Regions from separate parts of the Homo sapiens genome. Here region 1 is linked to region 2. The links come from fine-mapping of genetic effects on plasma protein levels. Region 2 holds a variant in brackets. A gene starts in the other region. All regions are shown on their forward strands.

Region 1 (2,910 bases), not on the chromosome of region 2:
ATACTTAATAATTGGCACCGTTGCTTTCTAAAGACTCCATGGTGCATTCAAGAGTATCCAACTTCAAGGGAATCTCCGCATTTCAATGAAAGGAGGAAGAGTGTGCTGATAAACCTACCAGCACCTATTGAGCAATGTCTATTATAGTAATTTTGCATACATTTTTATTTAAGGGAAAAAATATAGGTATTGTGAAATATTTTGCTAATCTTATAGAAAAGGAAAAAATCCCGTTATTTAAAGGGAAAAGTAAATTTAACAGTTGCCTTTTTTCTTAATGTCAGGGCAGATCTTATTTTACAGTACAGTGGGGGAAATAGAAACATGTGAAAGGCAAAAGGCAGGCTCCTAAATTAATGTCAGTGAAGTTCAGGGTGGGCAAATGAGTGTGTGTGAGGTATAGGAAATGCTGATGACTTCTTTAATGCTTGAAGTCCGTTCACAGGTATCTAGCCCTAGAATGCCTAGAACAGGAAGAGGCAGCTGGTGTTCTGCAAAACTTGGACAGGGGCAAAGTTGCTGAAAAAGTTTTGGTTTAACCCGAAGATAAGTGGAAAAGAGCTTGTCCATGAACCCAGGTTCTCACTCTGTTTACAGAAGTGTGTTGAGTACAGTTGGTGAAGGAAGAGGTAACAAAAAATGCTAAATATTTTATCCATGAAAATGACTTCCAGAAAAGGAAGAATATGAACCCCAGACCGAAGGGGAAAAGATAGTTAATAGTATTATCTAACCTGGTTGGTATTTGTAATGAATGGTGATTTTAATTAGTCATTAGCCATAATGATGTTTATTTACAGTATAACTCCTGAATGCTACTTAAATAAACCAGGATTCAAACTGCAAGCCAGCCAGGCCGTTCATTATTTAAAACGTTTTAATCGGGGCTTCCGGGTAGAAGGTGGAGCGGCAGGGTGTAATTGGGTTGATGGGTGGGACCTGTCTTGACCATCGGAGTTTTATAATCGAGGGCCAGGAGGGCCCGGGTTGCTCTCCTGGTTATGTATGTACTTGTACATAACCACCTAAAGAATGGTGAAATAAATGTTCTTGGAAATTCCTACCCGGACTGGCTAGTCCTTGCGGAAGCAGCGTCCGGGCCCTCGGGTAACGTTTGAAGAGCTGGCAGCGTCTCAGGCTGCTGCGTGGCGAAGGGGCGGACCGGGGGACGGGGGGGTGGGCCCTTAGGGGCTGGGGCGGGACTTCCCTGGGCACTGAGTCAAAGCTTGAGGGGAGTGTTCGCTCCCGCATTTTCGATTCCACTCTCTTCCGTTTCTGTCGCTGCAGTCGTCCGCGGGTAAGGCCCTCCCTAGACCCTTTATACCTACTTTACCTTTCGGAGGTCAAGACACCTCCTGTTGCCGCCTCCTCGCCCAACACACAGGCGCCCCCCGCACGGGTACCAAGCTTGACTAACGGCCTCTAGGGGTGTGTGGTGGGACTTGAAATCCTCCCTTAATGAAGTCACACCTTCTCCGTCCGCTTCCACCCGGTCGGCCCATGGCAGAGCCCCCATGTAGCCCAGGAATCGGCTTGGCCCTTCGGGGAGGTCAGCGTCCTTACTATCCCCACTCTCCAGTGCGGCACATTCGTTCCCCTAGGACTCCGGCCGGTTGCCGGCCCCAGGCGGTGCTTCTCCCCACCACCGCCCAGCTCAGCTCAGCCCAGCCCAGCCCACTCTGCCCTTAGAGGCCCTTCTCCCCAAAGACGCACTCCAGAAGTCTCGCCCTCGTGCGGCTGAGGAGCCTGGGATCCCAGACCTGAACAAGGTGAGCATCCCTATATTTTAGCCCAGAAAGATCTGTGTGGCTCACTTGCCGGCCTCGTTCTGTCACACAGAGTCCAGATTTAGCCTTGAGTTTTCCTAGTGAAAGACAGACCCTGGTATCACTATGACCCTCCTCAGGCTTTCTTACCCCGCCTCAGAAAGCAGTGAGGTGTCTGCTTTCTCCCAGGGCTTCTTTAGATAGGGGTCTTAACCACACCTGTGACCAGTCTGGCCTCCTCTCTCCTTGATTCAAAGAATCTCTTTTCTGCCCTATCCAACTTCCTTCCCTTAAACTGAATGACAGCTCAGCAACTTTTCCAGAGAAAAATTAAATGCTCTGACAATCACTTATGGAAGTTCCTTAAAGTGAAGTAACTTCTGCTTTTCTTTTGTTTTCCCTTTTGTAGGCAGATTGGTCTCTTTTAAAATAATGAAAGGAGTCGAAATGCATTGAGACTTCTGAGAGTCCCATGTGACCACCCAGTTTTTCACATCCTATCTTCCTTAGGCTTGAGCTTGCTTAAACTGTGGTGAAGCTCCTTGCCAGTCTTGAGAACTTCAAACCAAAATTACATCTGGCGTCAGTGCTAACAAGCTTAGCACTGAACTTTGGTCTTTTCTCATTAGTGAAACCCCCGCCCCTGAAGAATGGGTAAGACGTTTTCCCAGCTGGGCTCTTGGCGGGAGGATGAGAACAAGTCAATCCTGTCCTCCAAACCAGCCATTGGCAGCAAGGCTGTCAACTACTCCAGCACCGGTAGCAGCAAGTCTTTTTGTTCCTGTGTGCCTTGTGAAGGAACTGCTGATGCCAGCTTCGTGACTTGTCCCACCTGCCAGGGCAGTGGCAAGATTCCCCAAGGTGAGTGGCCCAAGGCTCTGGAAATAGCCTGGAATCCAGGGAAAGTTCTTAGCCTGTTGGCCTGGGGCAGCCCCTCTGAGTCTCCTTGGATGGGGTTAGATCTGCTCCCAGCTCTTGACCTCCCAGTCTCAGGCTGGCCAGGGAGATACTTAACTATCCTTGGGTTCCCTGCAAAAACCTGCCCTCCTTCCCTGGTTGTATTCTCCAGCCCCTTGTGGGAAAGAAGGATTCTAGCCACTGTGCTTCTGAGCAACACTGTGTGTCCTAGGATTCATTCAGTTCA
Region 2 (2,910 bases):
TCCCCCCCGGCATACAAGCTTATAGAGCAGCCTCCTTTGAAGATCTCCAGGTGGACTTCACAGAGATGCCAAAGTGTGGAGGTAACAAGTATTTACTAGTTCTTTTGTGTACCTACTGTGGGTGGGTGGAGGCTTATCCAACACTAACTGAGAAAGCTCGTGAAGTAACCTGTGTGCTTCTTCGAGATCTTATTCCTAGATTTGGACTGCCCTTACGGATCAGCTCAGATAATGGGCTAACGTTTGTGGCTGACTTGGTACAGAAGATAGCAAAGGTATTGGGGATCATTTGGAAACTGCATGCCGCCTACCGGCCTCAGAGTTCCAGAAAGGCAGAGCAGATGAATCAGACTATCAAAAATAGTTTAGGGAAAGTATGTCAGGAAACAGGATTAAAATGGATACATGCTCTCTATAGTATTATTTAAAATTAGATGTACCCCTTCTAAAAGAACAGGATATTCCCCTTAGGAAATATTATATCATGGGACCCTTCCCATATTGCAGGGACTTCCAGGCACTTCCTGAGAGTTAGGTGAAATTGAGTTACAGCGACAGCTACAGGCTTTAGGAAAAATTACACAAACAATCTCAGCCTGGGTAAATGAGAGACCCTGTTAGCTTATTCTCCCCAGTTCACCTTTTCTCCCCAGGTGTTCGAGTGTGGATCAAGGACTGGAACGTAGCCTCTTTGTGCCCATGGTGGAAAGGACCCCAGACTGTCGTCCTGATCACTCCCACTGCTGTGAACGTAGAGAGAATCCTAGCCTGGATCCATCACAACCGTGTAAAACCTGCAGCGCCTGAATCCTGGGAGGCAAGACCAAGTCTGGACAACCCCTGCAGAGTGACCCTGAAGAAGATGACAAGCCCTGCTCCAGTCACACCCAGAAGCTGACTGGTCCACGCACAGCCGAAGCATGAGGAAGCTCATTGTGGGCTTCATTTTTCTTAAATTTTGGACTTACAGTAAGGGCTTCAACTGTTCTTACTCAAACTGGGGACTATTCCCAGTGTATTCATCAGGTCAGTGAGGTAGGACAGCAAATGAAAACAATCTTTCTGTTCTATAGTTATTATCAATGTATGGGAACGTTAAAAGAGACTTGTTTGTATAATGCCACTCAGTACAAGGTATGTAGCCCAGGAAATGACTGACCTGATGTGTGTTATAACCCATCTGAGCCCCCTACAACCACCAGTTTTGAAATAAGATTAAGAACTGGCCTTTTCCTAGGTGATACAAGTGAAATAATAACTAGAACAGAAGAAAAAGGAATCCCCAAACAAGTAACTTTAAGAT[T/C]TGACGCTTGTGCAGCCATTAATAGTAACAAGCTAGGAACAGGATGTGGTTCTCTTAACTGGGAAAGGAGCTACAGAGTAGAAAATAAATATGTTTGTCATGAGTCAGGGGTTTGTGAAAATTGTGCCTTTTGGCCATGTGTTATTTAGGCTACTTGGAAAAAGAACAAAAAGGACTTGGTTCATCTTCAGAAAGGGGAAGCCAACCCCTCCTGTGCTGCCAGTCACTGTAACCCACTAGAACTAATAATTACCAATCCCCTAGATCCCCATTGGAAAAAGGGAGAATGTGTAACCCTGGGGATCAAAGGGACAGGGTTAAACCCCCAAGTTGCCATTTTAGTTCAAGGGGAGGTCCACAAGCACTCTCCCAAACCAGTGTTTCAAACCTTTTATGAGGAGTTAAATCTGCCAGCACCAGAACTTCTGAAAAAGATAAAAAATTTGTTTCTCCAATTAGCAGAAAATGTAGCTCATTCCCTTAATGTTACTTCTTGTTATATATGCGGGGGAACCACTATCAGAGACCGATGGCCTTGGGAAGCCTGAGAGTTGGTGCCCACTGATCCAGCTCCTGATATAATGGGGGCTTGTCCAGGATCTCATCAGGACTGGATGGCTCTCGCTGGACTATACTGGATATGTGGGCAGAGAGCCTACATTCAGTTACCTAATGAATGGGCAGACAGTTGTGTTATTGGCACTATTAAGCCATCCTTTTTCTTATTACCGATAAAAACTACTGGTACTATCTGTAAATTCCAGACATTGTATGAGAAAGCACTGTAAAACTTTTTGTTCTGTTAGCTGATATATGTAGCCTCCAGTCACATTCCTCATGCTTACTTGATCTATCATGACCCTTTCACGTGGACCCCTTAGAGTTGTAAGCCCTTAAAAGGGCTAGGAATTTCTTTTTGGGGGAGCTTGGCTCTTAAGACATGAGTCTGCCAATGCTACCGGCCAAATAAAAACCTCTTCCTTCTTTAATCCAGTGTCTCAAGAGTTTTGTCTGCAGCTCATCCTGCTACATTCTCTTCATCAATAAGGATGTATGGTAGTGTAGATGTTCATTGGCTTGATTTAGCCATTCCACAGTGCAGACAGACATACTTGCAAAACTTCATGCTATACACCATATGTGTTCAATATGTATTTGTCAATTAAAATAAATTTTGTTAAAGAGAAAAGGGAAGAAAGTCATACAGTGTTAAGGAGGTGCCTGGTGCCTCGTAGTACTATAAACACCTTCCTCTCATCATTATTATTTCTAGCATTGTAATTAATGATATTATGTTACCCTGTGGCCCCCTGGTGCCCTTGGTGGAGGCTGTAGTTTTGGAGGCCACAAGTCAACTCAGGTCCCTGCCCTTCTCACAGGGTGGCACGGCAGGGCCACTGGGACAGGACAGCCCCACCATGAGCACTGCATGATTCCATCAACCCACACCCACATGGCACAAATGCCTCCCTGCAGGAGCCCGGCCCTCCCAGCCTCTCCTGGGAGCCCAGTCCCAGCACTCTGGGTCAACCACGACCTCCCTCCCAGTGGGGGCTCTGATGGCCACACCCTGCTGTCCCTGCAGCCCTGCAGCTGGGTGTGGTGAG

Which allele goes with the higher level. Positions count from the first base shown, and alleles are read on the strand shown. Strength reflects both the effect of a copy and how common the allele is.
In carriers of allele T in region 2, the plasma level of the protein whose gene starts at base 1,250 in region 1 tends to be higher than with C alone (weak association).

The links. PIP is the posterior inclusion probability: the model's chance that the variant is causal. The UK Biobank Pharma Proteomics Project read protein levels with antibody pairs (Olink). The fine-mapping took linkage between variants from a reference panel, not from the people measured, so its PIPs are less certain.
Region 1: it holds the start of TMEM106A, and the variant in region 2 is fine-mapped to the plasma level of the TMEM106A protein (UK Biobank, PIP 0.96).

Annotation. Positions count from the first base shown.
Region 1 is chr17:43,210,626-43,213,535 of GRCh38, forward strand. It overlaps TMEM106A (transmembrane protein 106A), which reads left to right and starts at 1,250. Exons shown (of 9, transcript NM_145041.4): 1 at 1,250-1,297; 2 at 1,602-1,769; 3 at 2,396-2,627. The coding sequence starts at 2,417. NBR1 (NBR1 autophagy cargo receptor) reads left to right here. Exons shown (of 21, transcript NM_005899.5): 21 at 1-1,063.
Region 2 is chr20:24,930,694-24,933,603 of GRCh38, forward strand. It overlaps LINC02967 (long intergenic non-protein coding RNA 2967), which reads left to right. Exons shown (of 3, transcript XR_001754563.2): 2 at 1-81; 3 at 654-2,292. Among named protein-coding and RNA genes, the nearest start is that of LINC02967, 14 kb to the left of the region's middle. The variant T/C (reference allele first, on the strand shown) is at 1,304.